Linked DNA regions of Homo sapiens: regions 2 and 3 are each linked to region 1. The links come from fine-mapping of genetic effects on gene expression. A gene starts in region 1. Each other region holds a variant in brackets. All regions are shown on one strand. Distances are from middle to middle. Region 1 holds the start of PNPLA1 (patatin like domain 1, omega-hydroxyceramide transacylase). Region 2 overlaps PNPLA1 (patatin like domain 1, omega-hydroxyceramide transacylase). Region 3 overlaps PNPLA1 (patatin like domain 1, omega-hydroxyceramide transacylase).

Region 1 (2,851 bases):
ACTGAGGCCCAGAGAGATCATGCACAGGTCACACTGCCTGTAAATAGCAGAGTTGGGATCCAATGTCATGACTCAGAAGGGTTCTCATCCAAAGCCCTTCATCCTGTGAAACAGGTCCCATTACACCCCTTCCCTTCTCTGCAAGGGGCTCTTGCTGCTCCTCGACCAGTGCCTGCCTGCTCCTCCCAGCTGCCTCCAGTCCCGCAGCCCACACCTCCGCCGCACAGCTCCTCAGATGTTCCAGCCCACACTGCTCAGCCCCGCCTCCTAACTTTTCTGGCAGGAATCTCAGCCCTGCACAGTTTAGTACTTAATTATAGATTGCCTTGTACAGTTTTCTGCTTATTTCACATTTGCCTGTCTTGTTCCCAAGAAGCCTGCAAATATCTGATTTGGGGATGGAGCTTCTGTGTGCTCCTGTCCCCCAGGGCCCCGACACAGCACAGGGCTTGGCACACAAGCCCTCAGTGGAGCTGACCTCACCTCCCAGGAAGGGGGCAGGGTCTCTGCTGTCCAAAAGCTGACTGGACTCCACCCTGACACACCCGCCCCCACCCCAGCAGTATGCCTCAGATATCTGCACACACATGCACACATGCATACACACGCATGTACGCACACACACTTTATCTAATCTAAAGCTCTCTTTTCAACCTGAGGCAATGATATGCCTGGAATTACCTACCCAAGACAGAAAACTCCCTCCTAACTGAAGCCTGGCCTTGCCCTCACTGTGGAATTCCCATGCAGATAAGTGAGTCCACCAGAATGGTGCAAGCTCCCCAGAAGCGGGGAAGCCACTGATGTCACATCCTGGATTGGCACTTGGTGGAGGCCTTGGTGTCTTGATTCTGATTCTGGTCCTGTTGCTGTGTGGTCTTTGAGGGGAGCGGGAGACGCCATCTTGCCTTCTTTGTTATATCTCCATGAGGGGACATTTTGTGGGTGTGAGAACCACTCCTCCCCATCAGGACCACATGATACAGCCCCTCAGGGGGCAGAACCGCAGCCCCTGGAGCTAACCCTGGTCCTCTCACACCACCTCCCTTACCAAAACGTCTCTCTGCCCTGACCCCGACGTCCCCACAGGTGACCTCCCCAGCTGCTCCTCCTTGGGGTTAAACATTGCTATCTCAAACTTCTCATTTCTGAGCGGGAAGAAGAACACGCAACACGAAGCCTCACACACTTAGAATGATCTAGATTTCAGGTTGATTTCTTCCTGCACACTTAGAAGATAGCATGAGGGCTTGGGGCTTGTCGAGAGGGCACTGACCAAGGTCACAGGGTCAGTGAAGGGCCCAGGAGAAGAAACAGAGAGAGGTGCAGAGGCGGTGGTGGGTGGGGCCGCCAAAGTCACACTTCTCTTAAAATTTTACCCAGGGCCAATGCTAACATGTAAATAAACAAGTGAATAAACAAAGGGGTGTTTATGTAAGAAAAACAAATAAAAATGCTTGTGTAACACATCACACATACCACATAGCCTGAAGGAGCCCAGGAGGGGCATCTCTTTTGGGGGACCCGTCCAAAAGAGATGGGGTAGGCACCGTCCTCCTGGAGGGAGGCGGGCTTGGAAGCCCTTCACGGCCGCAGCAGCATGTTGGGGAGGGAGGTGTACACCGATAACCATCACGGAGGTTTTGCAACTGAATGTTGCAGCTGAGGGCTGGGCAGAGCCCGCCTCCTTGGGCATGGCCCTGTGCTGGGGAGCAGTGAATGCGCCCTGGTATACCATGGATGGGCAGAGGGCTGAGGATCCCGTGCCCGAGATGAATCTAGCCAAGAAATGAAGCCAGTGGGGGGCTCACAGGACCAAGACCCTGCTCACACACCGGGGGAGCCTTCTGCATCTCATTCTGGGGCCCCTTTCCAACCTTTGGAGTTGCCTCCTGGCGGAGCTTAACAGGCTGAGGCAGCTTCCTGAGCAGCCTGTGGTTGCTCCAGCCGGGTAGAGACAGCCACATTCCAAGCTCCGGGGTGGCAGGGAAGCTGGGTAGGGAGTTCCTACAGGGAGCGGCAGCCCAGGCTCGGGCAGGCAAGTGCTGAAGGGTGGCTCCGCCTTCCGCAGAAAGTCAGAGGCCGAGGAGATGGAAGAACAGGTGTTCAAGGGGGACCCGGACACCCCTCACTCCATCTCCTTCTCGGGCAGTGGATTCCTCTCCTTCTACCAGGCGGGGGCTGTGGACGCCCTGCGGGACCTGGCCCCCCGGATGCTGGAAACAGCCCACCGCTTTGCGGGGACATCGGCAGGTGCTGTGATCGCCGCCCTGGCCATCTGCGGGATTGAAATGGGTGAGGCCTGTGTTCTGGGTCCCCTGGGAAGTCTCTTGGGGGATTCCACAGAGACAGAAGGAGCGTGAGGGAGGCTGGGGATGCTTTGGGGGACAAAGCCAGGCCTGGGTGGCAGGAAGGGAAGGGAAGAGCTGGTTGGAGTAGGATAGCGGCAGCTGTGACGTTTGAAGGTTGGGGTCTGCCAGGCCCCAGACTCTAACATGCAGGGTGAGCCTGGACCCCTGTCCCTCTCCCTCAGTGCCCTTACCTGTGAGATGCTCTGTCTCCCAGTGCCTGGGAGAGTAAAGGACAGTATCTCCCTCGAACATCGAACATGGTGCTGTCAGAAGCTACACCACGGCACAGTCATACATTGGGGTTCAGTGTTGCTCCTGCCTGGCCTCTTTCAAAATGCAAATACCCTTGGGAGAGGCAACTCTTCAAATCTCTATCACCCTGATGGGGACGTATTGTCCACCATTTCCAGGTGGCTGGAAAGATGAACGCCCTGAGGCTGGAGGGGTAGACAGGAGGGAGCCCAGAGTGGGAGAAGAATAGGAAGGGGTGGGGAGAGAAT
Region 2 (2,500 bases), 38 kb after region 1:
AGTTCCAAGAGGGCCTGCAGGCATCCTACCTCCCAGCCTTAGGTAGCTCCTGCATGAAATGAATTAAGGGTCTCTATCAAAGGCCTTCCTTACTCCGAACTATTTTCTATTAGCATGATAATGACCTGATAGTACTAGACTGTAGACTGTCCCCAGAAAATCTTTTTTATTATGCACATCAAGTGTCTGGGTTGCATAACATACACTCCATTATATCTTTGCAATAACTATGAGAGGACCTGGGGATCTGCTTTTTTAAAAACTTCCCTGAGGACCACATTACCCAGGCTCCCTTGCTGGCTGAATGCCGTTTGTACTGGTGGTGGGGGAGGCACAGCAGGAGATCAGAAGTTGGGTCAAGGGTATTTCTCCCCACAACCCCAGCCCCCCTCTCATCCCTCCCTGCCTTGGGACCACTCTGGCAGTAGCTGGGTTTCTCCATGACCACAGCTGCAGGTATTGAGAGAGCAGGGCCTGAGGCATTCCTGCTTTTAATGTTTGCACTCTCTCTCACATCAAGCATATTAAAATTTACCTGCTTCCCACATTAAGTATAATTTTAACCATAAAACTTTTTGAAAGAGTTTGTATAAATTTAACAATTTTGAGCTTAGGCATAAGTTATGCATTTTGTTCACATAATTTAAACTTTTTTGCATTTACATATAACTCTATAAAAGTCGGAGTTTCATTTGACTCATGGGCATGATGTTACTTAGATAAATATTCATTGATTATATTTTAAAAAAAGTTTGCTGGGAAATCCAATCCTCAGCCAGGGTTGAGAACCACAGCGCGGGTGTGTCCACCTGCGGAGCTGAGCAGGCCACCATGTTGGAGGACCGAGGTCAGGCCCATAATGAACCATCTACTTAATCTCTTTGCCTAGGGAGAGCCCTGCTGAAGACTCAAACTGGGTGAATAAGGTCTTCAAGAAGAACAAGCAAAAGACAAGTGGCACCAGAAAAGGCTTCCCAAGACAT[T/C]CGGGATCCAAAAAACCAAGCAGCAAAGTGCAGTGAGCATGTCTAATGTTCCTTAAATCCCACGGAGAGGAGCAGCTTTGGGAACTGTGTTCAGAGAGATTCCGAGGAATAGAGGAGAGTGTAAGGGAGTAGGGGGTGCAGTGGGAGATTGGGCTTTGGAACAGACACATCCGACATAAAATTCCTGCTCTGCCACAGCTCCACTCAGGGATCATGGTTGGGACACTTGCTCTCCCTGAGCCTCCATTTCCTGTAAAATGGGGATGATACCACTTCATAAAGTTGTGAGAGTTAAATGTGATCGATGATGTAAATTGCTTCATAGAATGCAGAATGTGTAATAGCTCACAATAAGTAGGTATTATGTTTACATATTATGTTTGTATTTATGCTACTTAAATACAAAACTGGACAGGCCAGGCATGGTGGCTCATGCCTGTAATCCCAGCACTTTGGGAGGCTGAGGTAGGTGGAAAACCTGAGGTCAGGAGTTCAAGAACAGCCTGACCAACATGGTGAAACTCCATCTCTACTAAAAATACAAAAATTAACCAGGCTTGATGGTGTGCACCTGTAATCTCAGCTACTCGGGAGGCTGAGGCAAGAGAATCGCTTGAACCCAGGAGGCAGAGGTTGCAGTGCACCAAGACTGCGCCATTGCACTCCAGCCCGGGCAACAAGAGCGAAACCCCATCTCGAAAAAAAACAAAACAAAACTAGACAAGTGAGTGCCTACGTGACACTCAAATGTTGCCAGCATACAGTTAAGGGCCCTAGTCAATGTAGGCCTGCTTCTTATAGCTTTTTGACTATATTATGCTGTCTTTGACTTAGTCAGTCAACACTTATTGAGCACCTACTAAGTGCCAAACACTCTCCTGGACTCTGGCAAAATAAAAAATGAATTAAAACTCTATCCCCAAGTTTCAACAGTTTACTCCTAGTCTAACTTTAGATCAAAGATAAGACTAAAACCTAAGAATCTGATGAACTTTGAGTCCCACCTAAACCAAGTTTTAATTTTTTTACCGAGTCATCATATTTTAAGTAAAGCCCCATGCATGTATACAAACAGACTCGCAAATTCAAAATGAGAGCCTCAGATTCAAACCAAGTCGGGTATTATTTACAGTTATTTCATTGGGTTATCAAAGTATTTTCTGAATTGGCCAGGCATGTTGACATGTGCCGGTAGTCCCAGCTATTCGGGAGGCTGAGGCAGGAGGATTGCTTGAGCCCAGGAGTTGGAGTCTGGGCTGGGCAACATAGTATTCTCTGAATGGAACAGACCTGCACTGCTATATAATTTGCTTCAAGTCTTTGTTGGTCAGAAAAACCTCTAATCATTCTGAGCAACATCCTTCCTGGTTGTTCTTGTCCCAAGTGGGGTCCCTGGATGGGCACAGGGATTTATCAGACAGACAAGGGTCAGAGGCTCACCCGGCGGCCAAAGGCTCATCTCGAAGTCTAAGCAATGCACTTGATGAGTGGTGGGAAGCAGTATGGTAGCGGAGATT
Region 3 (2,500 bases), 28 kb after region 1:
AAGTGCTGAGTCCTAGCCACAGTCAGTCCCGCCTACTGCTGGGTGAAATCTGATGGTGGCACTTCAGGAATCTGTCCCCAAAATTGAGCCAGTATATGGATGGGGGCAGGCTTCTTCAATGGCCCTGGAATCACTCCAAGTAGGAACAGATACAACTCCTAAAGGAGAAATGGTCTCGTGCTGACTACCAGCTATTTTTGCTTCCTCTTCCGATTTGCCAGTGTATGGCACGGGTTTCTCAGCGCAGATTTCACCTCCACCACCTCAGTCCTCTTGGATTTGGTGGGACTGGATTTTTCTCTCTGCATCAGATGTGAACAGGAACTACTGACACATACTGAGAAACTGCAGTTGGTCTCCAGAGCCACACTCTTATCCCCACCTGCCATCTGGGAACAGAAAATGGGAGTCCGCCCAGCCTCCCCTGGGCTGCTTTCTGGGTAGGGGTCACCTCCAGCAGGAAACTACACCCCAAAAGGTGTCACCCTCCATTCCTCAGCTCACATTCTCACAGCCTCTTTCTCCTCCCTCCCAAGGGAGGAGAATTAATTATTCTTGCTGCCAGGCAAGCCACTCTGTCTACACTCGGCCCATCCTTGCAGCGGCCTTCTGCCAAAGGGAATGGCAGCGCAGGCTGGCGTGCTTGAAAATCCGCATTCCCCACACAGATGTGTGAATGTGGGTGCTGAGTGAGGTTGGAGCTCAGAGGATGCCATGTCTAAAATATCCATCCGGCATTCAGGCATGCCTGGCCAAACCTCTCTTCCGCCCTCCTCCCCCACTCCCTTCTTCCCTCTCACAGTTTGGTAAGTGACTCTGTCTCTCTGTACACACACACACACACACACACACCCTGTGAAACCATCACCACAATTAAGTTAGTGAATAATTCGTCATCCCCAAAATTTCCTCATGCCCTTTCGTGATCCCTCCCACCTTCCCTCACCCCCCGCCATTCCCAAGCAACCCCTGATCTGCTTTCTGCCATTATAGATTAATTCACTACAATGTGAACTCTTTTTTAAAAATCTGAATTCTTTCACTCTGCATAATTATTCTGAGATTCATCCATGTTGTTGAATGTATAAATAGTTTGTTCCTTTTTACGTTCCGTGCCACTGTATGAATGTACCACAGCTCATCTACCAAAAGAGTTGAATATACCACTGTATGCATATACCACAGCCCATTTACCCAGTCCCCTGTTGATGGACATTTAGGTTATTTTCAGATTTGGGCTATTATGGATAAAGCTGCTATGAACACTCACGCATGAGTCTTGGTGTGGACATATGCTTTCATTTCTCTTGGGTAAATACCTAGAAATGGAATGACGGGATTGCATGGTACATTCATGTTTAACATACATACACAAATATTTTAATTGTGG[TA/T]AAAAAACACGTAACAAATTTTAAGCACACAGTTCAGTAGTGTTAACTATTTCATATTGTTGTGCAGCAGATCTCTAGAACTTTTTCATCTTGCAAAACTGAGCCTTTACACACATTGATCAACAACTCCCCCTTTTCTCCTCCTCCAGCCCCCAGCAACCACCATCCCACTTTCTGTGCTGATGATTTTGACTACACTAGGTACTTCATATAAATGGAATCATGCGGTATTTGTCTTTTTGTGACTGGCTTATTTAACTTAACATAATGGCCTCAAGGTTCATCCATGTTGTAGCTGTAGCATGTGACAGGATTTTCTTCCTTTTTTGAGACGGAGTCTCGCTCTGTTGTCCAGGCTAGAGTGTGGTGGTGTGATCTCAGCTCACTGCAACCTCTGCCACCTGGGTTCAAGCGATTCTCCCGCCTCAGCCTCCTGAGTACCTGAGACTACAGGCACACGCCACCACGTCCAGCTAATTTTTGTATTTTTAGTAGAGACAGGGTTTCACCATGTTGGCCAGGATGGTCTCGATCTCCTCACCTCGTGATCTGCCTGCCTCGGCCTCCCAAAGTGCTGGGATTACTGGGGTGAGCCACCGCGCCTGGCCGATTTTCTTCCTTTTTAGAGCTGAATATATTCCACATGTTCTTTGTCCATCCATCTGACAAAGGACACTGGAGTTGCTTCCATCTTTCGGCTATTGTGGATAATGCTGCAGTGCCCATGGATGTCTCTTCCAGATCCTATTCAATTATTTTGGATATATAACCAGAATATATGTTTGACTTTTTAATAAACTGCCAAATTGTTTTCCAAAGCAGTTGTACCATGTTTCATTCCCACCAGCAGTGGATGAGCGTTCCCATTCCTCCAAAACTTTTGGGGTTTTTTTTGTTTTTTTGTCTGTTTTTTTTTTTTTTTTTGAGATGGAGTCTCGCTCTGTCACCCAGGCTGGAGTGCAGTGGCATGATCTCGGCTCACTGCAAGCTCCACCTCCTGGGTTCACACCATTCTCCTGCCTCAGTCTCCCGAGTAGCTGGGACTACAGGCGCCCGCTACCACGCCCAGCTAATTTTTTGCATTTTTAGTAGAGACGGGGTTTCGCCAT

The links. PIP is the estimated chance that this variant, and not a neighbour inherited with it, causes the effect.
Region 2: its variant is fine-mapped to the expression of PNPLA1 in whole blood (TOPMed, PIP 0.95).
Region 3: its variant is fine-mapped to the expression of PNPLA1 in blood mononuclear cells (TOPMed, PIP 0.90).

The regions. Positions count from the first base shown.
Region 1 is chr6:36,268,370-36,271,220 of GRCh38, forward strand. It overlaps PNPLA1 (patatin like domain 1, omega-hydroxyceramide transacylase), which reads left to right and starts at 1,691. Exons shown (of 9, transcript NM_001374623.1): 1 at 1,691-2,295. The coding sequence starts at 2,091. RefSeq lists an enhancer at 1-385.
Region 2 is chr6:36,306,698-36,309,197 of GRCh38, forward strand. PNPLA1 (patatin like domain 1, omega-hydroxyceramide transacylase) reads left to right here. Exons shown (of 9, transcript NM_001374623.1): 8 at 890-1,015. Among named protein-coding and RNA genes, the nearest start is that of BNIP5, 29 kb to the right of the region's middle. The variant T/C (reference allele first, on the strand shown) is at 984.
Region 3 is chr6:36,297,038-36,299,537 of GRCh38, forward strand. The region is part of intron 5 of PNPLA1 (patatin like domain 1, omega-hydroxyceramide transacylase); the gene reads left to right. Among named protein-coding and RNA genes, the nearest start is that of PNPLA1, 28 kb to the left of the region's middle. The variant TA/T (reference allele first, on the strand shown) is at 1,391.